Linked DNA regions of Homo sapiens. The protein of the gene in region 1 interacts with the protein of each later gene in a pairwise test. Each region holds a gene or a part of one and is shown in the gene's direction. Other genes may lie near its edges.

Region 1 (4,392 bases):
GTCTTTCTGTTTTCCCCCATGGTCCCAGGAATTAGGGGCACCTGGCACATCATGGGTGCTCAGTATGTATTGATGGAAGGAATGCAGTGTACACAGTGCTTCAGGGAGCCTGGTATTCCAGCCCTGTTTGTGCGGTTGCCTGTTTTCTCATGCCTTTCAGAGTCACTTCTTGAGTGTCATGATCCTGAACTTTTTATCGTGTGAATTCATTTGCTTGGTGACATGTATTGACACCTGCTTTGCACAGCAGCTGTTCTAGGCTGTGTATGTAGTGGTGAACGAGACCAACAGTGCCTGCCCTCTTGAAATCTGTTCTAGTTAGGAGTACAGACATTAATCATCAAACTGTACCACGATGAGGATTATGGAGCTTATAGGAGGGATGCTTCACCCAGCAAACATTCAAAATCTATTATTCACTGTGTATGTTTGAAGATGAAAGCAAAGCACTCACACCAAGCCCTAAAGTGAAAGGCTGGAGGGGTCTTCATGGGTTGGTTAGGCCAGCGCCTTACTTCTAAGGCAGAGTGACTCAGGGGCCTCTCAAGCCAGAAATGTGTCTGTTCTAATCCCCCCGCTTTCTGGAAAGCCCATTCTCTTGGTTTGAACGTGACGTGTGCAAATTCTGCCTCTGTTCCTGCTTTCAAATCCACTCGGCTCCTTAAGTAAGCCTCCTGCAGGCCGTTTTCCTGATTGCCTGGTGAACGGCCTGCACTTTGGGAAAATGCATCTGAGAAATTGCATTGGCCCTCCTGGGTCACCGCCTCTTTCTTCCCACCAGAGCTGGCCTGGAGGTGGAGGCCCCCTCAATGTTTGGACCTAAAGGAAGTGATGAGAATGAATCAGATGTGGGTGTCTTGGACCCCTTCCCTTTTCCTGTGCCCAGCCCCACTTAGCCTTGGCTTCCTGCCCCATTCCACTCTCTAGCTTCCCTGCAGAGGGAAAGGAGCTGGGCATAGGTCTCGAGGCCCCAGTTCCTCTGGGGTCAGAACATGGGAGCTGGTCAGCCTTGAGCATTTCATCCCCTCTCCATATGTCTATTTATGGAAATGGGCTTTTAAAAGGCCACTGGTTGGCTTAGTGATTTCCACTAGGTCTTCCCACCACCTCAGGGCTGGGAGGAAGGGGTCCTGCTTAGCACTGTGGCTGGGAGTGTGGGCTGGGGATGGAGGAAGAGCCGTGGGGCAGAGTGAGGAGCTACCAGGGCAGGGGAGTGTGTGTGTTGGGAGCAGGGTGGAAGGTGGGGGCCTGGATGTGGGTGGCACTGAGCCATCCTTGGGAGATTGTGGAGGGTCCAGGGTGTTAGGGGCAGTTTCAGAGATGCAGCATGGGCCACTGGCTTGAGGGAGAGCCCAGCAGGAGAGGCCCAGCCTCCTCCTCTTCCTGGCAGGATTTCTGGGTCTCTGTGGTCCATAACCTCATCCCATCTCTACACCTCACCTTCCTCCCCACTCCCATCCATCCTTCTCTCCTTCAGTTCCCATGTCTTCCTTCTGTGTGCCCCGTCTTCCCCTCCCCCTTCTCCTGTCCCATCAATTTCTCCCGCTTTTCCTCCTCCCCCTCCTTTTTTCACCCTCTCTCACCCAACTAAGCGTCATTCTGTCTTAGTGATCCATCTTCCCTTCCATCTCTGTCTTTCCTCCTCCTCAGAGGAGGAGGCTGTGATCACAGAAATATCTGTGAGGGGGAGGAGGGGGCCGAGCCAGGGAGAGGCTGGCAGAGTGACACTGCCGAGCATGGCAGGCTTGGCTGCTGCTCAGAGCCAGGCAGCCTGGTGCAGCCAGGGCTGGAGCAGGAGCTTGGGGGTCTGGCTGGTTAGGGTTCAAGCCCTGCCTCTTTTGCCTCATAGCTGGACGATCTTGGGCAAGGCATTTTACCTCCTTATGCTCCAGGGGTCATGACATCTATCACACAAGTCTGTTTGAAGAGTCAATTAGATAATATACATAAAATACCAGGCACATAGTAAGTGCTCAACAAATTTCAGCTAGGCAGTGACTCACAACTGTAATCCCAACACTTTGGGAGGCCAAGGCAGGAGGATTCTTTGAAGCTAGGAGTTCGAGACCAGCCTGGGCAACATAGCGAGCTCCTGTCTCTAAAAATATATATAAAAAATTAGCCAGGCCTGGTGGCACATACCTTTAGTTACAGCTATTCGAAGAGGCTGAGGTGAGAGGATTGCTTGAGCCCAGGCAACAGAGCAAGACCCCATCTTTAAAACAACAACAATAGTTGTTCGTGCCTCTCTTTTCCTGTTGTTGGTAAAATATGTTTCTGGGGAGCTCACCACCTTGACCCTTTCTAGGGAAAAACATCACTGCTGTCACCAGCACCATCACCATCATTATCAAACAGCTGAGCCAGAGACTAATAATAATGACAACAATAGCTAACACTTCTATGGGACTTCCTATGTGCTGGCACTGTTCTAACTTTCAGTGTATTATTTTATTTTATCCTTATTATAATCCTATGAGGTAGATGCTATTTTAGTGCCATTTTACAGAACAGAAAGTGGAAGCATAGATGAAGTAACTTGCTTAAGGTCACTCCACTAGTTTGTAACAGAGCCAGGATTTGAAACCAGGCAGTCTGGCTCCAGAGTCTGTCTTGTAACTCTCACACTATGATCAGATGATGGTAACAAAATTTAATTGTGGGCTGGGCGTGGTGGCTCACGCCTGTAATCCCAGCACTTTGGGAGGCCGAGGTGGGTGGATCACCTGAGATCGGGAGTTTGAGACTAACATGGAGAAACCCCATCTCTACTAAGGTACAAAATTAGATGGGCATGGTGGTGCACACCTGTAGTCCCAGCTACTTGGGAGGCTGAGGCAGGAGAATCGCTTGAACCCGGGAGGCAGAGGTTGTGGTGAGCCGAGATCGCGCCATTGCACTCCAGCCTGGGCAACAAGAGCGAGACTTCGTCTCAAAAAATAAATAAATAAATAAATAAAATTAATTGCACAAAGGAATACATAAATACACTTTAAAAATTCAACAATAGGGATGAAGGAAAAGACCTCCAAATTCCAGCTAATCACCTTTCACTCCCAGGGACATGCATCAATTTAGGATATGTCCTTCTAGGTCTTTTTTTTTTTTTTTTTTTCTGTTAGGACAGAGTGTCACTCTGTCACCCAGGCTGGAGTGCAGTGGTACAACCACGGCTCACTGCAGCCTTGACCTCTTCTGACTCAGGTGATCCTCCCACGTCAACCTCCGGAGTAGCTGGGGCTACAGACGCACATCACCATGCCTGGCTAATTTTTGTATTTTTTGTAGAGATGGGGTTTCACCATGCTGCCCAGGCTGGTCTTGAACTCCTGGACTCAAGCAATCCACCTGCCTCGGCCTCCCAAAGTGCTGGGATTACAGGTGTGAGCCACTGCACCTAGCCCTTCCGGGTCATTTTCTATGTGCTTATGTATTTATACAGGTACTTAAAGAAACTTGGTGCTTTGTGTTGGATATTGTTTTTTAAACAAATAGGATCATGCTGTATCTATTACTTTGCAACCTGCTATTATAATTTAATAATCATGGAGATCTTTTCATTTGATTGATTCATTCTTTTAAAACATCTGTGTAGTATTCTGTAGTGGGAATTCACCGTGGTTTATTTAAGCCACTCTTCTCTTTTTTTTTTTTTTTTTTGAGACAAACTCTCACTCTGTCACCCAGGCTGGAGTGTGGTGGTGTGATCTCGGCTCACTGCAGCCTCCACCTCCTGGGTTCAAGTGATTCTCCTGCCTCAGCCTCCTGAGTAGTGGGACTACAGGCATGCACCACCACACCTGGCTAATTTTTTTATTTTTAGCAGAGACAGGGTTTTGCCATGTTGGCCAGGCTGGTCTCGAACTACTGACCTCAAGTGATCTGCCCACCTTGGCCTCCCAAAGGGCTGAGATTATAGGCGTGAGCCACTGTGCCCAGCCTAAACCACTCTTCTTTTGATGGACATTAAGGCTGTTTCCAATTTTTTCCTATCACAAGTAGTGCTGTGGGACACATTCTTGGATATGTGAAGCGTGCAGACATGAATGTAGGTGTTGGCTGGAAGCTGTATGTGTGATTGTTGGCTGGAAGGGCCCTGGATTGTCCTTCAGGAAGCTGCCCTCTGACACTGATACAGAAGGGAGATGCAAACGACAGGACATGGCCCCAAGGGGCTGCGAGGTGCTTATGGGGGAGAGAGAATCCAGAAGGGTGATGCCAGCATCAGCCAGATGCCGGGGTGTGGACTAGTGACAGCCATTGGCTTCTGCTCCATGAGGGCCTCTTGCTGACAGTGGTGGGGTTTCTGTAACCCCACCTGACTGGGCCCATGGATGCCGTCTCCAAAGGTGGAAGCAGCTTGGTGAAGTGGGCAGAGTGGTGTTCCTGAGG
Region 2 (4,392 bases), on another chromosome or scaffold:
GGTTCTTGTGAGGATTAAGGAGCAGATATGTGTAAGGAACTTAGAACTGCGCCTGGCAGAGAACAAGCCCTGTAAGTGTTTGCTGGTGTCGTTGCAGTGAGAGTTAGATGGGCAAGGTCTCTTGCCCAAGGTCACATGGTGGGGAAGTAGCCCCGGCTGCAGCTTGGAAGGCTGTTCTCACAGTGAACAGGTTGAGGTTCAAATCTCAGCTCTGGCACTTAGTAGCTGTGCATTCTCAAGCAAGTCACTGTCCCTCTCTGATCTGTCAAATGGGGATCATAATGCTACTTGCCTCCCAGAGCTGCTGCGAAGGGGAGGTGTGAGGAGGCTTGGGGACCATGAGGGTGGGCAGGGTGCACTGGGACCACTCATGCCAGCCCCTGGGAGCCCAGCAGGATGCGTCCTCATGACTGTGTCCTTGCAGACACTGCCGTGGAAACAGTGCGACAACCCCTGGAACACAGACCGCTGCTTCTCCAACTACAGCATGGTCAACACTACCAACATGACCAGCGCTGTGGTGGAGTTCTGGGAGTGAGTATGGGGCCATCAGGGGATGGCAGGGACGGGGCATGTCAGCCAGAGCCCGGCAGGAGACAGAGGCCCCTCGGAGGGGTAACAGAAGAGGTGGATAAAGGGGCTACAGTCATGTGTCACATCATGACATTTTGGTCATCAGTGGACCACATATGCAACGATGGTCCCATAAGATTATAATACCATATTTTTACTTTACCTTTTCTACGTCTAGACATGTCTAGTACCGAAATGCATTGTGTTACAGTTGCGTACAATATTCAGTACAGTCATGTGCTGTACAGGTTTGTAGTCTAGGAGCAATAGGCCACACCGTATGGCATAGGAGTGTAGCAGGCTAGACCATCTAGGTTTGTGCAAGTACACGCTATGATATGCACACAACAACAAAATTGCTTAAGAACGCATTTCTCAGAACATATCCCTGTTGTTAAGTGACACATGACTATACTTGCAGAGTTGTGGCAGGGCTAAGGCAGCCACAAGGGATGCTGAAGACCTTTTCTCCCCAAAAAGAGTTGGACCACAGATAGAGCCATGAGACACACAAACTCTGACCTTTGATAGCAAAACCCAGCTACTCACAAAGCCAAGGTCCAGCAGGAAGAATACATTCCCCAACATCTCTGCCTCTAATCTCCTGCCAGCTCCTCCCAATGGTCAAACCCAGCTAGAAGCCAGAGGGCAGGGGACCAGATAATGTGGCCATAGTCGTCAGCATCCTGGGGCCTGGCACAGAGTGGTCAAGGGGAAGAGTGGATCAGAGAGGCAAACGGAGGGGAATAACCAGCATAGCCAATTAGAATCACCTGGAGAGGTTGACCACATCCTGATTCATCCTGAAAACCAGCCTGATCTACTTACGAACCTAGAGTCACTCGGAATAAACATGCACACACACTCTGGCCATAGTGAAGGCCGTGCTGATTGTATCTTCAGGGGAGTACCTTGTAGAGATGTGTGTCGGGGGTCACTGATGTGACACAATGAGGTGCTGGGGCCCAAATCTCTCTGGCATGAAGGAAGCATCCATGCTGGACAGCTCAGAAGGATCCGGGAGCAGTCTAGAAGGTCTCAGAGCACCTTGGATAAGCTCCCAGGAGGAGCTGTTCTCAGGCACTGTCAGAATCAGAGTTGCCTGATCTCTTCATGGCCAATGTCCATGGTTACACTGTTTCTTTACAAATAAAAATCAAATTCTGCTCTGGTGGGTTCTGCTTTCTGGCATCTCCCGCATGCTGCTCTCAGGCACGTTCGGACTTTTCATTCAACCATTTATTCAGTAAACACTTCTTGATCTCCTACTATGTGCCAACTGATGACAGGCACGGACATGCAGACAGGCAATGGCACCACCAGGCGGCCAATGCGGAGAGGAGGGAAGCCCAGGCAGCTGGGCTGCGGGGACCTCAGGGAGTCCCCTGGACCACCCCAGGTCGGGAGTGGCATCTAGAAGAGAAAACTGCAGGGCAGGCAGGTGCTGGAGAGAAACAGTGTGAAGGCTGGGAGGCAGATGAGGTCAGGCCAGGCACCGGCAAACAGCTGCAGTGAGTGCTGAGAGGAGAGAGAGATGCAAGGGCCTTGAAAGGCTGGCCAGGGAGTTTGGGCTTCATTCTGAGAACAAGCGGGTGCTATTCATCGCAGTAAGCAGAGGAGTGACATGATCAGACTTGCAATTTAGAAGGCTCTCTGGGGCTGGAGAGGGGATAGAGCAAAACTGAAGGCAGGGTCCCACTAGGAGGCCACTGGGCCATCCAGATGAGCAGTAGTGGTGGCTGACTAAGGCCCTGGCAGGTCCTGTTCTCTTTGATCTCTTGACCAAACAGCACTTTCTACTGATTAGTATAATGGGCCTCACAGTCCCCAGCTACCTCTTGAATCACGGTGATGACGGTGTCAGCACAGTTCTAGGGCGGGGATATCATCTGTGGCCATGCCCTGGGCACCCCTGGGTCACTCCGGCTCCCACCAGCTCTGTGTAACTTTCTCCTCCCTCCACTGTTTGACCAGGCGCAACATGCATCAGATGACGGACGGGCTGGATAAGCCAGGTCAGATCCGCTGGCCACTGGCCATCACGCTGGCCATCGCCTGGATCCTTGTGTATTTCTGTATCTGGAAGGGTGTTGGCTGGACTGGAAAGGTAAGGGATATATGTGCACAGTGGGGACAGGAGGGCACTGGATAGAGGAACAGGTCTACAAAGGAAGCTCTGCCCACAACTCCCAAGAGTCCCATCCAACCTTGAATTAAGCAGGTCCCTTCAACACTCGGTGTGTCCGTTTCTTTTACTGTGAAATGGGAATAATAACATTACCTTACCTTCTGGGGCAGTTGTGAGGATAAAAGGAAATAGTGCAAGTCAAGTACGCAGCACAGTGCGAAGCTCACAGTGAGTCCCATGGGATTCCACTGGGCCTAACAGAGTCATCTCAAAACAGAGGGCAAATGTTGCTCCTGGACTGTTGAACAAACTTTTCCAGAGCATCTGCTCTGCACCAAACCTTGTTCTAGGTGCAGAAACTCCAGAGATGACAGCTTCACATCCTGACCCTTGAGGAACAACAGAGATGAATAGGTTAATGGTTAGATTCAGGCTCTGTATTAAGCAGTCCATGAGTTAAGATCCCAACCTCACCATTTACTAGCTGTGAGCTCAGGCAAGTCACTTTGCCTCCCTGGAACTCAGTTTCCTTCTCTGTAAAACGGGGCTAATAATTATACTTATCTGTTGGTTTATTATGATAATCAGATGAGATGGTGCTTTTGTCAAGCGCTCAGCACCCAGCAAGGAGAGTTGTTATTACTCTTGTTTTTATTCTCAGCAAGTGCAGAGCAAATGCCAAGCTGGGATGTCTAGCCCAGGGACACCCGGGAGGTGGAAAACTGGCCTTACTCCACCTTTTCTCCCTTTCAAGCCCTACCCCAGGAGCCTGGGGGCAGAAGATGGCAGTCTCTCACTGGCCCTGACCTGAAGGGAACCCGGAGGACAAGTGTGTTGTCTCAGATCTTATGGCAAGTCAAGGGCAGAGAAGGGATTTGTACTGAATAAGATGGGAGGCAGGAAGGTCAGAACTACCCAAGAAGTGAATGCAAGGTTCTAGAAGCAGTAGTAGAAATGAACCAAGCAGAACCTTAACAAATTCCACACTTGGGCAGGGCAGAGCTGATGAAAAGCTACCCTAGTTTCATCTAGTGGGAACTTCTGGACCCACTGGGTTCTCAAATCCAAGGCTGGTGTAAAAGTATCTCTGATCCATTCCTAGGACTAGGGACGCCGGAGGAGGGCACAAGTATCTCCCAGTCTAAATTTCAGGAGCAGAAAAGTATAGGGCTTATGGGCTTTGGAAGGGTTTGAGTCTCAGTCCCTGAGCTTCTAGCTGTGTGCACTTGAGCAAGCCATTTCATCTCTCTGAGCCTCAGTCCCCTCATCTGTTCAATGGTCACAATAACAGTACCTTACAGGGTTGTCCCAAAGACTGAGGGAGATGAGTAGAATGCTTAGCATATGCCTTACACATAGTAAGCACTCAATACATAGTATCAATTATAATCATTTTGGAGTGGTAATTAGAGTTCGTGCTACATTAGGAGACTGGCCACTTCTTGGGGACAGAGAGTAGGGCCCCCTCACTGCATATATTGAGGATGTCAACCAATCCATCCACAAGCATTTATTGAATACCTACTATGTGCCTGGCTTCATGCTGAACACGGAAGGCACAGGGAAGTACGAGACCAAGGTGACATATAATAAGCCTGCGGCATGTCCTGATGTGACTGACCTTTCTGAGCAGTAGGTGTGACTGTGCCTGATTCCAGACAAGAGAAAGTGAAGCTAAGAGAAAATACAAC
Region 3 (4,392 bases), on another chromosome or scaffold:
ACTCTGTCTCAAAAATAAAAATAAATAAAAGTAAAAATTAGCTGGGCATAGTGACATGTATCTGTAGTCCCAGCTACTCCCAGCTACTTGAGAAACTGAGGCTAGAGGATCACTTGAGCCTAGGAGTTCAAGGCTATAGTGAGCCATGATTGTACCACTGTACTCCAGCCTGGGCCAGTATCCTCAGGACTGTTAAAGTCATGAAAAACGAGGAAGACTGAGAAACTGTCCCAGACCAGAACAGACTAAAGCAACATGACAATTAAATGCACTATAGTATCCTGGATGGGATTCAGGAACAAAAAGAGGACATTAGTGGAAGAATCGATGAACTCTAAATAAAGTCTGGAGTTAATAATAATGTACTAATATTGGTTTCTTAGTTTTGGCAAATGTACCATGGTAATGTGAGATGCTAACAATGGCCATCTTTGCAACTTTACTATAAATCTAAAATTTCAAATGTTAAAGTTCATTTAAGAACTATTACTCATCTTAGTTTTTTGCACTGGTTCTCACAGATATCACAAAACGTGAATACAATATTGTCAGCTGAGCCAGACCAGCCAGCTCTGGTGGTCATGATGAAAGAAGGACTGGCCATTGATGAATATTATGCTCACTTGCATTGATTTTTCCAAAACCTATGTTGAGTGTAAGAGAAACAAATATGAGATTCAATACAACTGAGTTAGACATAACAGCACAAGCATGAACCCCTGAATGAGGAGGATGAGTTAGGGGTGTCATGGATCCATGCATGTGCTTGGCCTTTGAACCGCAGCCCACCTCTGACACAAAGTCATGCAGTGACTTTGGGTATCTTCTTTTCTTTTTCTTTTTTTTTAAGAGTCTTGCTCTGTCACCCAGGCTGGAGTGCAGTGGCACAATCTCAGCTCACTATCACCTCCACCTCCCGGGCTCAAGAGATTCTCCTCCCTTAGCTGGAGTACAGTGGCACCATTTCAGCTCACTGCAACCTCCGCCTCCCGGATTCAAGCAATTCTCCTGCCTCAGCCTTCTGAGTAGCTGGGATTACAGGTGTGCACCACCATGCCTAGTTAATTTTTGTATTTTTACTAGAGCCAAGGATTCACCATATTGGCCAGGCTGGTCTTGAACTCCTGACCTCAAATGATCCGTCTGTGTTGGCCTCCCAAAATGCTGGGATTACAGGCATGAGCCACCGCGCCTGACCAAGTGTCTTTATTTCTAAACTTTAACCTGCTTGACCTTAAAGTAAGGATAACAGACTTGATAAGGTGGCTCACGCCCGTAATCCCAACACTTTGGGAGGCCAAAGCAGGAGGATCACTTGAGCCTAAGTGTTCAAGAACGGCTGGCAATATAGTGAAACCTCATCTCTACAAAAAGTTAAAAAATTAGCTGGACGTGATGGTGCATGCCTATAATCCTAGCTATTCAGGAGGCTGAGGTGGGGAGATCACTTGAGTCCAGAGGCAGAAGCTGCAGTAAGCTGAGATTGCACCACTGCACTCCAGCCTGGGTGACAGAGCGAGGCCCTATCTCAAAAATAAAGTAAGGATAACAGAAGTACCTACCTCAAACAATTGTGAGAATTGCTCAGCACAGCACCTTACAGAGCCTGTTATAGGGCCTGGAGGAATTTGATAAATTGATATCACTACTATTATTTCCACCACTAAGGAAAGAAAAGCTTTACTATAGATCTTGTCTCCATTGCCCATAAAATAAAGCCCAAATTCCTTAGCATGACTTCTAAAGCCAATTATATCATATGTGAGTAGCTTAATTTCCTGCAACTATTCTTCCCATGCCCTGAACTGCAGCCCCAGTGAACTTTCCAGAGCTTTCATACCTGTTTTCTCTGCCTCAGTCTTCCCCTGTAGCTCATTCTTCACGACCTCACATCAGTGCCCCTTCTCCGGGAAGCAGTTCTTCACTCTCCTGTGATGTTCCTTGTCCCTCCCTTCTGTACACCTATGGAAGCGGACCTGTCCCAGTTATAACTCATCACCTTGTACTGCCGTTGTTTACCTACCTAGCACCTTTGCTAGATGTAAAAATCAGAAGATCAGAAGTCCTTACTATTTCATCTTCACATTCTTCTGGTGCTTGACACATCGTTGTTACCCAGCAAAATGAATGAGTAAATTGAATGAATAGAAACAGAAGTACTGCAGTTGCTCAGAATTATTTTGGAGAATAACTGATGAAAATTTATCATTGGTTTTTATTTTTTTATTTTATTTTATTTATTTATGTATTTTTTTGAGACAGGGTTTTGCTCTGTTGCCCAGGCTGGAGTGCAGTGGCGCAATCTCGGCTCACTGCAAGCTCCGCCTCCGGGGTTCACACCATTCCCCTGCCTCAGCCTTTCAAGTAGTTGGAACTACAGGCCCCCGCCACCACGCCCAGCTAATTTTTTGTATTTTTAGTAGAGACAGGGTTTCACCATGTTATCCAGGATGGTCTCGATCTCCTGACCTTGTGATCCACCTGCCTCGGCCTCCCAAAGTGCTGGAATTACAGGCATGAGCCACCACACCCGGCCTGGTTTTTATTTATTAAAACCTCAATTAGTTCATAGGAATAAAGACTGATATTATCAGATGATATTTACTACTACTTTATTTACTGTTTATCTATAAAAACATTTAATATAATTATTTGAGAAATTTGATCTTGCCTTTCTGGTTTTGTTTGTTTTTGTCTTCAAGGTTCCAGTTACAGCCATCCCTTGTCATAACTTTTGAACTGTATTTGGAAAAATACTGGCCAGGAAAGAAAAATGATAAAATTTTTCCTCATGGTGAATAAACAAGGGCAGACTCGACTTTCTAAGTACTATGAACATGTGGATATTAATAAGCGTACACTTCTGGAAACAGAAGTCATAAAGAGCTGTCTCTCTCGATCCAATGAACAAGTAAGTCTCTGGTTCTCTCTTTTATCTCTGCATTCAACTCAGCCTTGGCAGATTTGTTATTAGTGAGTCTCAGGGGCCATCATTTTCTTTGAGCTATATTCCTTCAACAGCTACTAAAGAAAATAAGTGATGTGAAATGAAAAACTGAAAGAAGCATAGCTCTCTTTACATCCCTTTAAGAAAACAAAAACAAGGAAAACCTGGAAGAATCTTGGCTTCTTATTTAAGTCAGCATATTTGTCTCAATGCACCTTGGAAACGACAGTAAAATTTCCTTCTGCTAATAGACACACCTCTTCTTTTTTCATTCCTATGAATTCAGCCCTTGAAACTCTCATGAGTGCCTGTATCAGGTAGCTTTCTATAAGCCAAAAAATGAAGATCAGATGATTGGTGTAGAGGTGAATACTGAAGACCCATTTTGTGCCAGAGGATAATAATATTATTCTCAAATCGGGTGGTTTTATTCTGCTTATTATTTTTGTAAATATACCACCAATATAATACTGAAACCAGTGATTTAAAAACAAAACAAATTTGATTATCTAGGTGGGGAAAACGGAAATTAAGAATTCATGTGAAACAACAAATTTATCCATCTTCCAAAATGGAGGTTAAGGCTGGGTGCAATGGCGCACGCCTGTAATCCCAGCACTTTGGGAGGCTGAAGCGGGTGGATCACTAGAGGTCAGAAGTTCAAGACCAGCCTGGCCAGCATGGTGAAAAATTAGCTGGGCGTAATTGTGCACAACTGTAGTCCCAGCTACTGGGGAGGCCGAGGCAGGATTGTTTGAACATGGGAGGTGAAGGTTGCAGTGAGCCAAGATTGCTCCATTGCTCTCCAGCCTGAGCGACAAGAGCAAAACTCTGTCTCAAAAAAAAAAAAAAGGAGGTTAAATAGGAATTTTTAAAACTGCGTCCTTTTTTTTTTAATTTAATAGTTTTTTTTTATTATACTTTTAAGTTCTAGGGTACATGTGGACAACATGCAGGTTTGTTACATATGTATACATGTGCCATGTTGGTGTGCTGTACCCGTTAACTCGTCATTTACATTAGGTATATCTCCTAATGCTATCCCTTCCCCCTCCCCCCACCCTACCACAGGCCCCGGTTTGTGATGTCCCCCACCCTGTGTCCAAGTGTTCTCATTGTTCAATTCCCACCTATGAGTGAGAACAATTTTTTTTTTTTTTTTGAGATGGAGTCTTGCTTTGTCACCCAGGCTGGAGTGCAGTGATGCCATCTTGGCTCACTGTAACCAACCTCCACTTCCCGGGTTCAAGCGATTCTCCCGCCTCAGCCTCCTGAGTAGCTGGGATTACAGGCTCGTGCCACCACACCCAGCTTATTTTTGTATTTTTAGTAGAGATGGGGTTTCACCATGTTGGTCAGGCTGGTCTCGAACTCCTGACCTCAAGTGATCTGCCTGCCTCGGCCTCCTAAAGTGCTGGAATTACAGGCATGAGCCACCGTGCCAG
Region 4 (3,616 bases), about 26 Mb from region 1:
ATCTTAGCCTCTTCTGCTACAGCAGCTTAGCTGTAGCTACAGGAGTTTAACTCTGGAAAAAGGAAGGCAGTCTCACATGGTGTGTACCCCAGGGTATGCACCTGTAACCCTCCTGCTCCCTTTATTCATTTAGAAAAGGTGCTGACTTTTCTGTTGAGCACCTGGGGTTACAGTAATAAGTAAGTCTCAGCAGAAGATGTGAGAAGAGCTCACCATTAGTGCCGTGCCCTGTGCTGGAAGAAGGGTGGATAACTCCCTGAGGATGAGTTAAGGAAGACTTCCTAGGGGAGAGGAGATATCTACGTCTAGGAAGAGGAGGGGGCATAGGCATTCCATGTAAACTTAACACCTGGGTTACGATCTGGAAGGATGAAAAAGCATGGCTTTTTTTGGCCAGGCGCGGTGGCTCACGCCTGTAATCCCAGCACTTTGGGAGGCTAAGGCGGGCGGATCACGAGGTCAGGAGATCGAGATCATCCTGGCTAACACGGTGAAACCCCGTCTCTACTAAAAATACAAAAAATTAGCTGCGCGTGGTGGTGAGCGCCTGTAGTCCCAGCTACTGGGGAGGCTGAGGCAGGAGAATGGCGTGAACCCAGGAGGTGGAGCTTGCAGTGAGCTGAGATAGTGCCACTGCACTCCAGCCTGGGCGGTAAAGCGAGACTCCATCTCAAAAAAAAAAAAAAAGAAAAAGCATGGCTTTTTAAAAATTCTTGGCCCTTTGTCCTCTCTGGGATTGGAGTTTGGGACATAGAGTGGCTGGATGGGCAGGTAGGGTAGAAGCCTGGCATTTGTGTCCACACTTGGTGGGGCTGTCTCTCACTCAGGCGGGGAGACAACCCCTTCCCCAAGAATGCTGATGGGACTATATGCTACGACTCCACCCACTACAAGGAGACTTGGAAGGCTCTGGAGGCACTGGTGGCTAAGGGGCTGGTGCAGGCGCTGGGCCTGTCCAACTTCAACAGTCGGCAGATTGATGACATACTCAGTGTGGCCTCCGTGCGTCCAGCTGTCTTGCAGGTAAGGACAGCAAGCAGATGAGTGGTTTAGGGGTTGTCTGCTCAAGAGCATGAGGGAGCAGACGATGGATCTGCTTAAGGGAGATAGCTAGCAAGTTGTCAGAGTGTTGGTGCAGAAGTCCTCTGCATAAAGGTGGGCATTGAAGCAGTGGGAGAGAATGAAATTGCCGATGGGAAATGGTGAGAAAAGCAGGCTGAAGGGGAGTGGAGGAGTCAGCAATAGGGGGTGGTCCAGACATGCATGTCTGGGATGGGCCAAGCAAGCTGGGTGTCACCACTTCATGGTGATGGGTTATTCTTTGGCTCAGGTGGAATGCCACCCATACTTGGCTCAAAATGAGCTAATTGCCCACTGCCAAGCACGTGGCCTGGAGGTAACTGCTTATAGCCCTTTGGGCTCCTCTGATCGTGCATGGCGTGATCCTGATGAGCCTGTCCTGCTGGAGGAACCAGTAGTCCTGGCATTGGCTGAAAAGTATGGCCGATCTCCAGCTCAGATCTTGCTCAGGTATGGGGCAGTCTTAGGGAGAGGGCCCTGGGTTGGGAGGCAAGGGTTAAGGGATTTCTTATTTCAGTGTCTGGGTGAGGCTGAGGATCTTGCCTTGTGATCTGGAGGGAGGCCACTGTAGGCATATTTCCCATTTCAGCAGGGCTCAGGTGCTCCAGGAGCTTAGGGAAGCTGCATGGGGAACAAAATAGTGCTTATGAATACTGACCCCTTTTCCTCATCTGTCTAATCCCCCAACTTAGGTGGCAGGTCCAGCGGAAAGTGATCTGCATCCCCAAAAGTATCACTCCTTCTCGAATCCTTCAGAACATCAAGGTACTTGGTAATGGGTTCTATCTTCTTTAGCTCTTTGGGACATTTTCTTGGCCCTGACTCTACCTGGCTAAAAAGGCAGTGTTGTGGAACCCCAGCTTCTGCTCACAAAGCTGGCTTTCTTGAACCCCACTCTCCATCCTCAGGTGTTTGACTTCACCTTTAGCCCAGAAGAGATGAAGCAGCTAAATGCCCTGAACAAAAATTGGAGATATATTGTGCCTATGCTTACGGTGAGGATGTATCAGCCTCCTAGACTTGGGGAATGTGAGATTTGGGGTGGGATTCTGGCCCAGGTGTGACCTAAGGCTTGCTGGTTGTGAGAAGGACACAATGTTGTGGGTGGGATTGCTATGCTGGACATAGTGCCCTCATTTCTCTTTATTGAGCTCAGGGAAGTAGTATGGCTCAGGGATAAGGCATATAACCTGTGAGTCCCAGTCCTGCTTCTTGATATCTTGTAACCTAGAGCAAGTTATTAAACTTCTCCAAGCCTCAGCTTCCTATGTGTAAAATGAGCCCAGTTCCTGACATGTAGTAGATTCTCAGTAAATGATATGAGGAGAGCCCAGAAGGCGTTGTTGACCTCACTCGAGGGATTGGGGTTGGGAGGGAAGTCGGCTGTACTTAGGGAAATAAATGGTTCCTGGCCTCTTGATCTCAGTTCAGACTGCAAACTCTTAGGGGCAGGGGTAGCTACATATCAGGCTATGGGTTTGGTGCTAGAATGGTGTTGATACTGTGGTGTTCTCTGAGGATGGGGATCCCAGCCAATGCCATCTGGCATAGTGCTGTACACAGGTGAGTTTGTTTAGGAAGATTTGGGGAAGATGCCTGGAGTCTTTGGAATGGCAACTCCTGCTGATGGAGTAATCTATCTGTCTCTCTTTCCAGGTGGATGGGAAGAGAGTCCCAAGGGATGCAGGGCATCCTCTGTACCCCTTTAATGACCCGTACTGAGACCACAGCTTCTTGGCCTCCCTTCCAGCTCTGCAGCTAATGAGGTCCTGCCACAACGGAAAGAGGGAGTTAATAAAGCCATTGGAGCATCCATATTGCTTGCTTGTCTTATTTGCCTGGTCAGGCCTGAGATGGAGGCTGTTTCCCTCAGGGATGACAGACCTCGGGCTGCTGGATGTGACCTGCCCTTGAAGCCCAAATATTCATATCCTGGTTCTGGAGGAACCTGTGAGGAGGCTGAGTAATTCTGTATCCTTGCATTAGGCACGTTGGGAAGTAGCGCCATCTACTGGCACATCTTAAGCACTGCATGCTTCCCTGGAGTCTTCTCAAGAATGCCTCAAATTGGCCACCTCAGGAGTGAGCGATCAGGGCAATGATTGTCCGTTGGTTTCAAGGCAGTGCTGGACCTGGGCCTTAAGTTTCCATCCCCCTGTCCTGACCAGTGCCTAGGTTTAGTAATTTGAAGAGTCCAAGCGACTTACATTAAGAAGTTAGGGAATCCTAGCTTGCAAAATCACAAAAGGTGGGGACAGGGGCTTTCTCCATCAGACACTATAGTCAGTGTGCATAGGTGACCTGCAGGAGGCAACAGTCCTGCCCAGACCTTGTCACTCGGCCCCTAAGGCCCTATCTTATGCACTTTTTATTGGTGGGCACCAGAGACCACTGATAAACAGGTTTTAGGAAGGTTTATGGCAAATCTCTCTAACCTCCAGTCACACGAAACTCTTTACTTTCCCAAACCATTGCTCTTTGTTCAAGAAGTATTTATTGGGTACTTATGGGTTAGGCATGATGCTAAGCCCTGGGG
Region 5 (4,392 bases), on another chromosome or scaffold:
CAGGGCTGGGTTTATTTTTTAAAAACAACCGGACTGTGCGAATGCCCTTTTCTGGAGCTTTCTGGCCCTTTCTAGTGAAATAATAATTTAAAAAAAATTGCTTCTTGAGAAGAGGAGGGGGCAGAAATTAAAGGGATTCTAGATTTTGAGAGACAGCTACGTCTTTGCTTCTCTGGTAGTTCCCTATTATTAATTATTGGGGTTTTGACGGCGTTCTGGCCTCCGTTTTTGTTGATTTCATTTTAGTGCTGCGTTTCTCCTGACTATGTTGATGATTTGCTGCTTATATAAGGGAAAGGATGTATTGAGGTGGACTGATGCTTGGGGTTTTGAGATCGGCTACTGAGATTGGGTGGCGGTTGGTGTGTTTGTCGATGTGCATGGTAGGAAGGTCTTTTCTTTTGGGTGGTAGGGGATGAGAGAATGGTGGGAGAACGGTAGATGAGATGCTACAGCAAACGGGGATGTGGGGGGAGACGGAGGTGAGGTTGGAAGTCACCGGTTTGCAGAATTTCTATTCTGCACCCCCCTTTCTCTCGCTCCTGGAAAAAAAATCCATTATCTATAAAAACACATTATTCTTCAATTGGCCTTTTAGAGAAAAAAAAGAGAGAGGGAAGGGAGGGGTTAATTTGGTGAGGGGGCTTGGTCGTAATTAGCCCACTGCTGCAAAACTGAGATACAGAAATCCATCGGCACCAGCTTTGGGGGCATGGAGAGGCAGCGGAGAGATGGGGGACGGGTTGTCAGTCTTGGATGAACAGTGGAGCGGTCGGGTTGGCGTCTGGGCATTGTGTGTGCTTGTGTCTCTGTGTGTGTGTGAAATTTTTTCATCCCACCACCAATCTCCCCCTCCATCCTCCCCCAATTCTGCCATGATCTTGCCTTCTATTTCCACACACTGCTCCCCCCACCCTAGGCGCACCCCCCCTTCCTCCAGCCCTTTCCATCTTCATGAAAAAAATTCTGATTTTGATGGCTCTGCGGCTCTTTTTTCCCTTTTTCCTTGCTTTTTTTTTTTTTTTGCAACACAACAGTCGTGCGATGGCCTTTCCTACATGCCACACGGATGCAGCCTTCTGATAGGAGGGCAAAGTCGGCACATCCACACACACACTGGCATACGCTCTTGCACACACAGTCTCTGTCACATACACAGGCGCCAAGGGCTTCATTTTGCTTGGTTTCATTCCCCTTAACCTCTTTCCCCACTCTACCTCCACCATGGCTCCTTCCCCCCATCTTTGCATGGGGACTGCGGTCACGTTAGAGCCTCTTTTCCTCTCCGCAACCGCGGTCTTCTTTCTTCTCGCCATTATTCTTTCCCTAAAGCTGTCGTGTGTCGCAGTTCATGGGATTAGCATGTTGGAGAGTCTTTGTGGGAGGGGACCTCACAAGCAGGGGATTGGAATGGGGGTAGATAACATTAATAATTTTTTTTGACCAAATAAGCACCCAGTGATAATGATCCAATTTAACCATCCATGAAATATATGTTTGCGGTACATTGGAGGAAGGTTATGTGGGGGAGGCAGAGTCTGACGGGGTTACCTCCGGGGAGATTTGATGCCTGGACAGTAGAGCCACAGCCCCCTCCCCCATACACATGTGTACACTCTCTCACACACACCAACACGCACAGCTCTGATCAGTGGGCTGTGTCGAACCAGAGGGCACTGCAGAATATCCCAGAGAGTTGTGATGGTTAGTTGGGAGGATGGAACAATGTCTTTGTCCGACCCAGTTCTCCTCTCTACAGATGATTCTGGGTCTTGAAATTCTTGGTGGCCTTTGTGTTGGTTTACGGGTGGGGACTGGAAGGGTGTTTGTGTTTTGTCAAGCACCAGCGTGCCTCCAATTGGACAACATAGGATTGTCAACACTGTGCGTGTGGTTCAAGCAGGAGGCTGCCTGCCTCTTTGTGTGGTGTGGCTGTGTTTGTTGGATATGTGCGTATCCAGCCTCATACGGTGGCTCTGGACAGGTGTGGTAGTGACGGGGAAGGAAGGCAAGAAGCAGGGATGGTCAGTGGGGAAGAGTCCTCAAGGTAGTTGAGAGGAGGGTAGAGGGGAAGAAACTGCTCCTGCCTCCAGCAGGAAGCCTCAAATGAGATCCCCACGTCCACCAAGCGAACCCGTGGGTGGGTGGCTCATGGATGACTGGTGGGCGGATACAGATTGAAGGGGGAGAAGGGGATGAGGTGGGTGAAATTGAGGGTTTTCCCTGCTGCCTTGACAGAGCCTGGGGCTGAGCTCGGGAGGGTGGTCTTGCTCCCCTGGCATCAGCCACCTCTTGGGCGGCTCGGCCTTGTTGGAGGCTGCAGCCTGAAGGAGCTGAAATCACCCTCGGCCGTGAGAGCAGCCCAGCCCCTGTTTTCTCCTGGGCTCTGGCTGCCTTAACTACCGGACGCCATTTTCCCATCTTCAGCTGAAGGTGTGTCTCTCTTTATTAGTAATTATAAGTGAAATTGGAAAACATTTTGCCTAAAAGAAAAAAATCACAAAATCCTCAGAGCAAAATGCTGATGGTCTTACCTTTCTAGCATCCCTCTCCCTTCTTGGGGCTGACCCTGAGGAGTTAGGGAGACAGGGTTACGTCATTGCCAGAGAAAGGGGATAAATGGGGAGTAGGATGCCTTGGGGGTAAATTATTGTGCCCAATGCAGAGAAGAGATTGTTCTTGGTATCCCCCGGCCGTGTTCTCCTTACATGACCCCTCAGGTGTGGATAGGAGACTTGCAAAAGAAGAAGCATTCCTTCTAAAACCTCACTGCCTAGAAATGTGCTGGCCCGTGGTCGGCTGTGGTCTGGGACCTGCTGTGGTCCGGTTCCTGCTGTGGTCCGGTTCCTGCTGTGGTCCGGGACCTGCTGGGGGAAGAACTGTTGCGCTGCAGCTCTGAGCCTTGAGGGCCAGCTCTGTTGCTCTGAGGATGAAGCAAGTGCGGTGCTGTGGCTGGGCCAGCCACAGGTGGCCATGCTGGGCTCGGGGCAGGTTGGCCATGCTGAGCTCGGGGCAGGGACTATGGATGGGGCCCACTCCCAGCCCTTTCCTGCAGGTTGTTCCTCAAATTATACTCCTCAGAGAGACCTTTCCTGACCAGCTTTCTAAAATAGTCCCCTTACCCCAACCTCCTGGCTGCTTTCCAGCCCATGACACTGTCTTTAATTTTAATCGGTGAATCATTATTTAATATTATATTATACGATGATATATTGAAACATTTAAGATGGATCTCGTCTCTTTACCCCTCTAGAATGCAAGCTCTGAGAGGTCAAGGACTTTGTGTTCATTGTGGTGTTCCTAGTGCGTAGGACATTTCCTGACACGTAGTAGGTGCTCAACAAATGTTTGTCGATTGGAGGAAAGAACCACATGGGTTTAGTGTTGGAGTTTTCTTCTCTAGCACTTGTGGCCTGTCTTCTGGGAAGGGTGGACTTTGCCTCTGGTTGTCTTAGCCCTGCCTGAATGTCTAGATCTGCTGGAGGAATTGCAACATGCTCAACTTCAGTAGTTTAGTAGAAAGGGCTTCTCTATCCCTGGCTCAGATGACTCTGCCTCCTTTGAGATCCCTCTAATATTAGTAATCACCATTCTCATCATCATCATAGTAGTGGTAGTAATAGTCGTGATATAGCTATCATTTCTGCAGTAGTTACTATTTACAAAGTTCTCTTCCAAGTTTTTTTTTTTTTTTTTTTAACACTCGGTATCTCATTTAATTCTCCAAACAACTCAATGCAGTATACTATTATTACCTGAGGAGACTGAGACTTAAAGTTACCTAATAAAATGACAGATCGAGGATTTGAATTCAGATCTGTCTCATGCCAGAGCCCAAGCATGGGACCCTTATGTTATAGTGTTAGAGGAAAAAGGGAGATGAATCATCTGTCATCTTATTCAGTGCCCTCAAGTACAAATGACAAGATGGAGGCCCAGAGAGACTACATGGCTTTTCCAAAGTTATGCACCACGTTTGATGCAGAGACAAAACTAGAATCAAGGTTTCCTGGCTGCCAGGGTAGGGCTCTTTCTACTCCATCATGCTGCCTGGTGGGCTGTGGGCCCTTTTCCAAGGGTATTGCAGCTGCTGCTGTGGGGGCTGCCTGGGGTGCCTTCTTAGTTCTCTTTCTTCAGAGGGGAGTGAGGTCTTGGTGGGGCAGGTGGGTGGTAGGTGTGTCTCTAAGGAAGGCACACTTGCAGAGCTAGAGGTCAGGGTTTCATGGCTCGAAGAAGACTGGTGGGCTATATTCCAGCTGAGTGGTGGTTAAGGTTGTCTTCTGACCTTCCTGGGGGAGGAGAAACTGGAATGGAGGAGGACCCCCATTCCAGTGGGGTGCTCAAGGTTCTCAATCCCATATAGCCCTGCCCGTCAAGGGTACTTTCAGGTCC
Region 6 (4,392 bases), on another chromosome or scaffold:
CTGTCACTCTCAGGGGGTGGCTTGGTGAACAGGCCCTTGGTGCAGAGGGAACTGGGACACCATCATGGCCAGTGCCACCCAGCTGTGATGTCCGGCATTCCTTTGCCATGATTTAGGGGCGGAGCAACCACACAATTAGAATCCTCACACTGACTCATCAGTCACCCTTTCTCCCTGGAGAGCAGAATACACATTGACTAATGCTCTTTCTGGAATATTCCACACAGAACCCTGCCCTTCTCTTACCACATGAATGCTGTGGCAGGCAAGCTATAGCGGATGGAAGATGGCAGTGTTTTCAAAGTGTGCATCCTGGACTACCTGCCTTAGAATTTCTGGGAGGGCTTGTTGGAAATGCAAAGTCTTGGCCCACTCAGATTTACACAATTGGAAGCTGGAGGTGGAACTTGACCTGACAACCGACATTTCTTAAAAAAAAAAAAAAAAAGCACACCAGGTGATTCTGATTCATCAGAAGTTTGAGAGCCTCTGCTGTAGAGTATTGTTTAAAGCAAACACAGAACAAAACCACTGCATACAGATATCCCTTGCTATCCAAACTTACTTGGCCCCTGAGTTTGCACAACAAGAGTTTGGTTGGTGAGAGGTGTACATTCCTCAAATGTATTTGATTCCTGTTTCACTGAGAGTTTGGAAAGCAATGCATCCATCTGTTTGTTTTCTAATTTTGTGTTTCTGGGCTCCTGATGGTGAAGTGGCTTGAACTGGCTCTGAGGCTGCACCTGGATGCTTTATTAGTGATGGTCACTTAAAATGACCCTTCAAAATGGACTGTGTGCCAGGAAGGGCGCTGATTCATGTGTGGTATCGCCTTTAGTCCTCATGGGGACTTAGTGAGGTACCTGCTCTCTGTTGTCTAGGTGAGGAAACTCAAGGCATGGGAGGTGTGCTGACTTGTCTGACAGCACAAAATTAGTGCTGGGTGGAGCCAATTCATCCCCAGGGACTGTAACTCCAAAGCCCCATGGTTGGATCTGTTGGTTCCCAGCAGTGTGGGTTCGAATTCATGTTCTACCTCATACCAGCTGCCTAACCTCTGTCAAGTCATGTTACCTCCCTGAGCCTCCCTGAGTTTTCTTCTCTATAAAACTGAAACAAGGTAGGTAAAGTTTTTCCATGATAACACCTACTTTAGAGATTTTCAGCAAGAACCAAAGAGAGCATGTAGAAGTATCTAGGACCGTGTCGGCTGCACGGAGCTATCTCCTTCAAGTTCTCTTAGTCCCCTCCTTACACACAGTGGACAGCATGACTCAGAGGGCCTCCCTGATGCCTGCATGTGCTGGTCTCAGCCCTGTGTTCCCCTTGAACTCTGGCCTGCTCACTGTCCTCTTGTAGCTTTGGATGTCCGCATCCAAGCCCATCTCACTGCACCCTTGAGACTCAGCTCTGGGATCTCTTCAGCTCCAGCCCTCTAACTCAGCTCTACATGAGCCAGTGACCTCAGGGGCCACACTCAGGAGTTTGTTGCCTGCTCCTTCCGAGTCACCATACTGACCACAACCTCTTCTCCTAGCACTTCCCTTGCTCTACCTCACGGGGATTGCTAGAGTATGGATTTCTATCTCCCCCTTGTGTCCAGGTCCTGTTGGCTTTGTTGCTTCCCTAAATAGCTAAGGCCTGGTGGCAGGTGACTTACTGTACTTCCCAGCCGCCCAGCTCACCATACTTGTCCATTTATCCTTGCCCCTCCTGCAGTACCTTTATCGTCAGACACTCCAGCCACACCCTCTGCTCTGTAGTCCAAGTCCTGAAAGCTGCTGGAGAAAATCCATGCCCCCACGAAGCAGGGAGGCCCTCAGATGCCCCGCCTCCAGCCCCAGCAGCCCAGGCAAGCTCTCTGCTCAGCTCACCTCACTTGTCCTCTGCAGCTGCTCCGTTTGCATGACCTCTTCTCTACTCCCTTTCACTGCTCCCCTCCAGGCCTTTGCCACCCCTGTGCCCCATTTCTCAGTGGATAGCACCTTTCCTCTTGTAGAAATGGAAGCTGGTGGACAGCCAGAGGTAGGGGATCGGACAGGGTGGATGTGGGTACGCATCCTGGCTGTGCCCCTTATCAGCTGTGTGACTCTGGGCAAGTTAACCTTTCTGAGTCTTGGAGTCCTTAATGTGCCGTTCACAGGATCAGATGCCACCTAGTGTGTACTTGCTGAATGGGCTCTATTAATAATCTCTGTCACTGAGACCTGGAATTTTGTGTATGCATGTTCTGGGCTCGAGGCCTCTTCCCTCAACTCCCCACCACTGTCCCTGCTTCCCACGTCTGCAAGCAGAATGAGCAAGATCTTCCTTCTCACCTACCTACCCTGCAGCCTCTCCATCCACTCTCATCCCTCCCAGCTGCAAAAGTGCCAGCCCCCTTGCCCCTGCCTGTTTCTGCTTTCCACTCCTTCACCTGACCTCCAAGGCAGAGCGAGTGCACACTGGGCTGTTCTGGCTGTGTCTGTGGCCTCATTGTCCATTTGTTCTTCACCATCCTCTACACAGGCTTCCACCTCCCCAATCCACTAAACTCTCACCTCAGCACTGACCTTGGTGGCCAGTAAAATCTATCTGTGTAGGTCCTGACCTTCCTTGAGCTCTGTGTCACTTCCTCACTGTTGGCCAGCTCCACCCCTTCTGGGACTGTTGGCCTCCCAATCCTTTCTGTGTCTGCCACTTAGGTGCCACTTCCCAGGCCCCCCACTATATCCTTTCCACCTCTTCTTCCCCTGCTGGGCTCAGTTGAGCCTTGGCAGATGACTCCAGAACTACCCCTTCAGCCCAGGTCTCTCCTGATTTTCAGATATGTGTGTTGACCTGCCTGTGAGAGCCATTCCTAGGCAGATGACCCTGGAGACCTCAGCTCCATAGGCTTCCGCGTGGTCAGGCCACCACCCCTGCCCTGCCTTTTCTCCTTCCTCCTCCTCCTCTTGCGCCCCCTGCCCCCAAATGCCAGCGAATTATGCCACCAGCTGAATGTGAAACCTGGAGTCACCCTTGGGTTCCTCAACACCTCCTCCTCCTCTGCTCCCTGCCCCCATGTCTGCTTGATGCCCCTGAATTCCTCTCACATCCACACAGTCCTCTGGATCCTTCAGCACATTGTTCTGGACCACCTCAGTGGGCCTTGCTTTGTTTTGTTCATTCAGCAAGTGTAGTGAGCACCTCTTATGTACCCAGCAGTGGCCTAGTACCATTTTGTCTAAAGCCTCTGGAATCTGTGTCTGTGTCCTGTTGCAACAGGACTCTTAATAACTTGAAGCCCAGATCATGTCAATTTCTCGCCTTGAAAGACCTCAGTGACTCCATTGGCCTAGAACTTGGAGTCTCCACTCCCTGGATAGACCCACCAGGTCCATATTATCTGGCCCGGACCTAACTTTCTAGTCACCCCTCTGCCCTCCCATTTGATTCTCCAGTCACATGGGCCTTTCATTGGCCCCAAATGCAACCTGCTCTGTCACAACTCCACACTGTTCCGTGCCCTGCAGCCCCTGCTTGGAGCATCTGAGCCCCATTTGTCTGACTGCAGGTGCTTCTTGTCAAATTCTAACTCCTCTGTGAAGCCTTCCCTGAATCTCCCAGGCAGATTTGAGGGCTTATTCCCCTGTGTCACCCCTGGGCCTCTGTGGGGGATCGGTCAGAGTGGTGGGAAAAACTATAGGGAAAGGATGCAAACCTTCTGAAAGGTCAGAAGGTTCTGCAGAGCCCCAGGGGAGAATAGCTGTTCTATAACCCTGAGGCAGAGGGCAAGGAGTAGGTACAAGGGAGTGTGGGAGAATTTATCTTAAACAGGCTTGTTTACTTATGTTGACCAGGAACTGACCTTTGATCGTCTGTGCTTGTGAGGTTCCCTGAAAGGGGAACAATAAATGTTAATTACCTGCAGGTTGGCTCTAGGTTTTTGGCATTATGCCTGCACTGAATAAAAGCCAGCAGCTCCAGCTTCTCGGGGCTGCTCTCTGGCCACTAGAGCCAGGCAGTAACCTAGCTGCTCTTATGCTGCATACCTGTGTCTGAGTACTCATTTCATCCATAGGCCAGGGTCTGCAGGACAGACCCAGCAGGCCTCACTGATAATTAAGCATTTTCTTGTCTCCATGATTGTGTCCTCACTGGATGGGGTGGCTCATCAAGGGTGAGGACCTTGTCTGCTTATTGCCTTACGTCCAGGGGCTAGCATAGGAAGGAGGGAATACCTTTGTATAGGACATAGCCATCCTGACAGGTGTCTTTCATCCCCAGGAGGACCAAAGTTCCACAGGTTTCAGACTGAAGACTTCATCTACCAGAAAGTATAAGTAGGCCAGGGCTCAGCATAATCCTGCTGGAAGGCTAGATGTATATCTTTTCTCTTGACTGCAAGTGAGAACGGGTGAGTCTCATGAT
Region 7 (4,392 bases), on another chromosome or scaffold:
TTTTACAACATTCAAAGCACCTGAATGCATTGGCTCATTAATTCTCAAAACAATTTTGTGAGGTGAATATTAGGATCGTCTTTCTGCCAGAAACAGCAAGCAAAACTGAATGGCGTTGTATGATTTTCAAATTGGCTTCACTAAGACCTGGCTATAAATCATATATGCACCACTTGGACTAGATTTACAAGAGGTCAACATAAAGTTTTTATGAACTTAAAAACAAATGGGTTATTTTTTTTAAAAAGATGACATTTATTTTAGTTGAATTATTTAGGTATGGTTTACTCTGCAGTCTAATTTAACAAAATATTTGTATTCCTCTCTACCCCATCTAAAATTTCTTTGTACTTTTCTTGTTGAAAATAAAGTGTCTCACAATATTAACCAGAAAATGTTTCATTTCTGGCATCTTAGAAGTTATAACCAAGTAAAATTACAAAGCAAATGAGTAACTTCAGTAGAGGCAGTATGTGTCTAGGTGTTAAAATTGGGGACTGACTCTAGGGGCTTCCAGATAACTGAACATGTGGCGGTTCCTAGAGGGTGATACACCCAGGGAGGGCTGGAACCTCCACACCCCTTTCCCCATACCTCATCCTATACGTCTCTTCAGCTATATCCTTTGTAATTAAACAGTAAACATTTTTAAAATGTGGACTCTAGAATCATCCATAGGCTTGAGTTCTGTTCCACTGTGTACTAAATGCATGGCCTTGGGTAAATTACTTATTACTTCTGTGTTTGGTTTTCTCAGATATAATATGAGGGAAAAAAGTACCCGTTTCATAGAGCTTTGTGAGTTTAAGTGAAATAATAAATGTAAAGCACTTAGAATAGTGCCTGGCACTAGTAAGCCCTCAATAAATGTTAGCCGGTAATAGTATAGCAATAAATAATAGTTACAGCTATTTCCAGCTACTAGAGGAATTATATATTAGTTATCATATATATAGAAAGGATTACAGATAGATATAAACATGAGCAGCACCATTTTAAGAGGGCCCTGGATATTCCTACTTTTGGAGGTCCAATTCCGCTTTATATCAAATATACTTAAAATGCAATTATACCCCACATTAAATAAACATTTTATGTAACTTTAAAGAAATGGGTTTTTTTTTTGGCTATTTGACATATTTTGTGGACATTGAATTAAAAACATTAATTTTGATTTTTTTGTTGTATTCTCCTGAGATCATACAGCAATTAAACGATGAAGCGTGAGCTAGAATTCTGGTCTCCTGGCTTATAATCAAATTGTTCCAAGAGAAAAGATGAAAATTATTGTTTTTCCACCAAGAAAGAACTGCTGGAGTCTAGTCCACTTTAAAACCTAATTCAAGCTGGAGTGCCTTTTGCTAAAATTAACACTCCAGAATGCTCAAAACTCTGAAAATAATATTGAATGTTTCCTTTCTTTATTCTTTTCTTAGATTGTGGTTTGAATGTTCATAAGCAGTGTTCCAAGATGGTCCCAAATGACTGTAAGCCAGACTTGAAGCATGTCAAAAAGGTGTACAGCTGTGACCTTACGACGCTCGTGAAAGCACATACCACTAAGCGGCCAATGGTGGTAGACATGTGCATCAGGGAGATTGAGTCTAGAGGTGAGCCATTTGCAGTGCGGGTTGCAGTGGTCTCCGTTCACTACCAGTACCAATCCTGATGCCTTTTGGGTACCTCATTGCACAATACGGTTGTCTTCTGTAATTTGGAGGGGAATGGTTTCATATGTCAAATGATCTCAAAGACTGAAATGAATTAATTTAACAATTAAATAGCTTGATTTCAAGGTACATTTAACTAAGTGTAGCCAATGTGCTTGTATAAAAATATATTTATAGATGATGCTTCCAGTCTGCAAAAGTTGACAGGTAAAGACAAATTCATTTTTCAGTTTTTAAATTTTTCTTTGGTTCAAAAAGCAAAAGTATAAATGCTCTACTAAAACTATCTATAAAGCCAAAAACAGAGCTGCATCCTAATTATTCTTTCCCACTTGAGAAAAACAGGCCTATATTTTATCTTAGTCTTCTGTTATGTAAAAGAATTTATGATGTAATTGGGGTGATGAATTATTTCCCTTAAGACTTAACATATTTCACTTAATTAGACCAAATGATGAGCCAGATGATATTCAGGTGACAATAGGTAAGAGTTAAAGAACTGTGTGTGAAATCGTTTTATTCTAGGAGAAGAGTGTGAAAAGATTTCTAAACATGTATATTTTATTTCTTCTGACACATTACCTCCCAGCTTAAAGTGTGAGGAGTTAAAATCTGAAGAAAAGGCATAATTCAAAGAAACTAACTAGTTTTATTTTTCAGGTCTTAATTCTGAAGGACTATACCGAGTATCAGGATTTAGTGACCTAATTGAAGATGTCAAGATGGCTTTCGACAGAGGTATGTTTTTCACAATGTTCCATAACTTAGGACAATAATACTCTTTTCTAAAAAGGCACAATTTCTTGTGAGGTATTTTTTGCATTATTTTTCTAAATCATTGATGATTATTATACCAAATTAAAAAACTTAGCTTATAATTTCTTCTTTTTTCTGAGTTGTAAGTATTAAACAGTCAAATTTCAGAATATGAAAGAAGTATAAAATTAAACTATGTTACCAATATTTGAGTATCCAAGGCTGGTCCATGTTCACCAAAATACATACAGAGCAATTACATTCACCAAAAATGATAGAGAAAAGAGTAGGATCTATACCATTACAGATTTCAGGCTTCTCAGGCTTGAGTTAACCCACCTTACCCTGCCTGTCATCCATGCCCCGCTGGCATCCTCATCACCATCTTCGATTAGCTGAGTGAGACCCAAGCCCGGACTCAAGTTTTGGGGCCAGAAAGCTGAAAGAAGCTTTAGGGGCCTTCTGTGGGGGACCCATCAGCCACTGTAGGAGAAGGGGCCCAGTCAAAGAAAAGCTCAGTGGAGCTTAATTTTCTTAGCTAACATTTAAATTAAGATTTGCTTCCATGGCTCTCCAATTTGTCTTTGCTTCAAGGACTAGAACAAGGTGGTTCCAAAGAAGACCTGTAGCCTTGAATACAGGAAGTAAAGGAGTAAGAGTTAGTGATCTTTTAAAGAACCACTTTCCTTTGCAAGTACGTATTCTAGTTCTATCACACAAACCTCTCCCATTCACAGACCTCTTGTAGGCAACAGAGGCAGAAAGCAAAAGTAATTAAATATTCATTACCAACCTGAGGGAAACTAGGCCAGCCCATGTATGTGATAAGAGCAAAGAAAGGGAGGTGAATTAATGGTGTATTCACTCCAAATAAGCATCAGGAAGAGCAGTCCTGAATCCCTGCCAGATTGAATGGGAAGAAGCATCTCTTTACTCTGGAAGCTCTGCAACTGAGCATGTCCATTCCCAGCCTCTGGCTATGAGTCTCAAAAATAAATTCACACTGACAAAGAAACTGAATGTTCCTATGGACCCCAGAGAGCAAAGAAATGACACAGTTTCCTGTATAGAAAATATGAGACAACCATTTTGTGACCTGAAAACACCAGTAACAGATTTTAAAATTCATGAAGAGCTCACCTTGGCTCCCTGTAGCCACACTGCTGGGGGCCAGTCTTTGGCCTCCCAAGGATGTGTACCAGCACTCATCTGCAAGATCTATAGTAATGATGCAAAGGATTTTAACATGGATTACAGGAAACCAGTGACTCGGATCATTAAAATCAGTTCTATATATAAATGCTGCCCAATTCCATGCATGTTCAAAGGAATAATCCTATACCTTTGAATAAACAGAGCAAAATAATTTGGAGTAATTAAGGATGATCACTTCTGAGAGGCATAAACCTCAAGTAATGAGATCCAAGAAAGAAGACAATATCCATAGGATGCTGGAATGAACTCATTTAAGAGCCAAGGTGAAAAGGCAAGTTTGGGGAAATCTTCCCCAGCTTAGGAAATAGTGACTGAATGGAAAGCTGACTATTCTGAGGTCAGCAGTTGCCATTATACCTCTGCTACATTTTGTCCTTTGGTGGAATCACAGATATTTATGTGACAGGTACAGTGAGAGATCCATGGTCAAAACAAATAAAATCTCATCAGCTTTACCCCAGAAGAATCCTAGTCTGCTGGAGGCAAGAGCAGAAAGTAAAGAAACAATCAGGAAACAGAGATGTTATAGACGTCTTGCTGATATGGTATAGCCCTACTTAGAATGTAGTATGTGGATATCAGATTCCAGGATTTGTTTACATTATTTTAAAACAGAAAATAAGTAAATAGATAATACAGATGGAAGAATATATTTGTGTATTTGTGTATACTTACTAAAAAGCAGGTTTTAAAAGAACCAGTTTAATAACAACGTACATAGTAAGCCCCGGCATGTTACTCTTTTAGGCCC

The links.
Region 2: the proteins of HTR6 (region 1) and SLC6A1 interact in a two-hybrid assay, tested with the Homo sapiens proteins (one large-scale study listed by BioGRID and IntAct).
Region 3: the proteins of HTR6 (region 1) and AP4S1 interact in a two-hybrid assay, tested with the Homo sapiens proteins (one large-scale study listed by BioGRID and IntAct).
Region 4: the proteins of HTR6 (region 1) and AKR1A1 interact in a two-hybrid assay, tested with the Homo sapiens proteins (one large-scale study listed by BioGRID and IntAct).
Region 5: the proteins of HTR6 (region 1) and NRXN3 interact in a two-hybrid assay, tested with the Homo sapiens proteins (one large-scale study listed by BioGRID and IntAct).
Region 6: the proteins of HTR6 (region 1) and IDS interact in a two-hybrid assay, tested with the Homo sapiens proteins (one large-scale study listed by BioGRID and IntAct).
Region 7: the proteins of HTR6 (region 1) and CHN1 interact in a two-hybrid assay, tested with the Homo sapiens proteins (one large-scale study listed by BioGRID and IntAct).

What each region holds. Positions count from the first base shown.
Region 1 is NC_000001.11:19,670,765-19,675,156, forward strand, and holds part of HTR6 (5-hydroxytryptamine receptor 6), read left to right. Parts: intron 1-4,392. UniProt on the Homo sapiens protein: G-protein coupled receptor for 5-hydroxytryptamine (serotonin), a biogenic hormone that functions as a neurotransmitter, a hormone and a mitogen. Also has a high affinity for tricyclic psychotropic drugs.
Region 2 is NC_000003.12:11,019,789-11,024,180, forward strand, and holds part of SLC6A1 (sodium- and chloride-dependent GABA transporter 1), read left to right. Parts: intron 1-424; coding exon 425-534; intron 535-2,547; coding exon 2,548-2,680; intron 2,681-4,392. UniProt on the Homo sapiens protein: Mediates transport of gamma-aminobutyric acid (GABA) together with sodium and chloride and is responsible for the reuptake of GABA from the synapse. The translocation of GABA, however, may also occur in the reverse direction leading to the release of GABA.
Region 3 is NC_000014.9:31,063,424-31,067,815, forward strand, and holds part of AP4S1 (AP-4 complex subunit sigma-1), read left to right. Parts: intron 1-2,702; 5' UTR 2,703-2,773; coding exon 2,774-2,911; intron 2,912-4,392. UniProt on the Homo sapiens protein: Component of the adaptor protein complex 4 (AP-4). Adaptor protein complexes are vesicle coat components involved both in vesicle formation and cargo selection. They control the vesicular transport of proteins in different trafficking pathways.
Region 4 is NC_000001.11:45,567,155-45,570,770, forward strand, and holds the end of AKR1A1 (aldo-keto reductase family 1 member A1), read left to right. Parts: intron 1-827; coding exon 828-1,023; intron 1,024-1,330; coding exon 1,331-1,530; intron 1,531-1,772; coding exon 1,773-1,845; intron 1,846-1,988; coding exon 1,989-2,075; intron 2,076-2,736; coding exon 2,737-2,802; 3' UTR 2,803-2,895; downstream 2,896-3,616. UniProt on the Homo sapiens protein: Catalyzes the NADPH-dependent reduction of a wide variety of carbonyl-containing compounds to their corresponding alcohols.
Region 5 is NC_000014.9:78,172,700-78,177,091, forward strand, and holds part of NRXN3 (neurexin 3), read left to right. Parts: intron 1-4,392. UniProt on the Homo sapiens protein: Neuronal cell surface protein that may be involved in cell recognition and cell adhesion. May mediate intracellular signaling. Functions as part of a trans-synaptic complex by binding to cerebellins and postsynaptic GRID1.
Region 6 is NC_000023.11:149,491,524-149,495,915, reverse strand, and holds part of IDS (iduronate 2-sulfatase isoform a preproprotein), read left to right. Parts: intron 1-4,248; exon of another isoform or gene 4,249-4,378; intron 4,379-4,392. UniProt on the Homo sapiens protein: Lysosomal enzyme involved in the degradation pathway of dermatan sulfate and heparan sulfate.
Region 7 is NC_000002.12:174,809,527-174,813,918, reverse strand, and holds part of CHN1 (N-chimaerin), read left to right. Parts: intron 1-1,436; coding exon 1,437-1,610; intron 1,611-2,330; coding exon 2,331-2,408; intron 2,409-4,392. UniProt on the Homo sapiens protein: GTPase-activating protein for p21-rac and a phorbol ester receptor. Involved in the assembly of neuronal locomotor circuits as a direct effector of EPHA4 in axon guidance.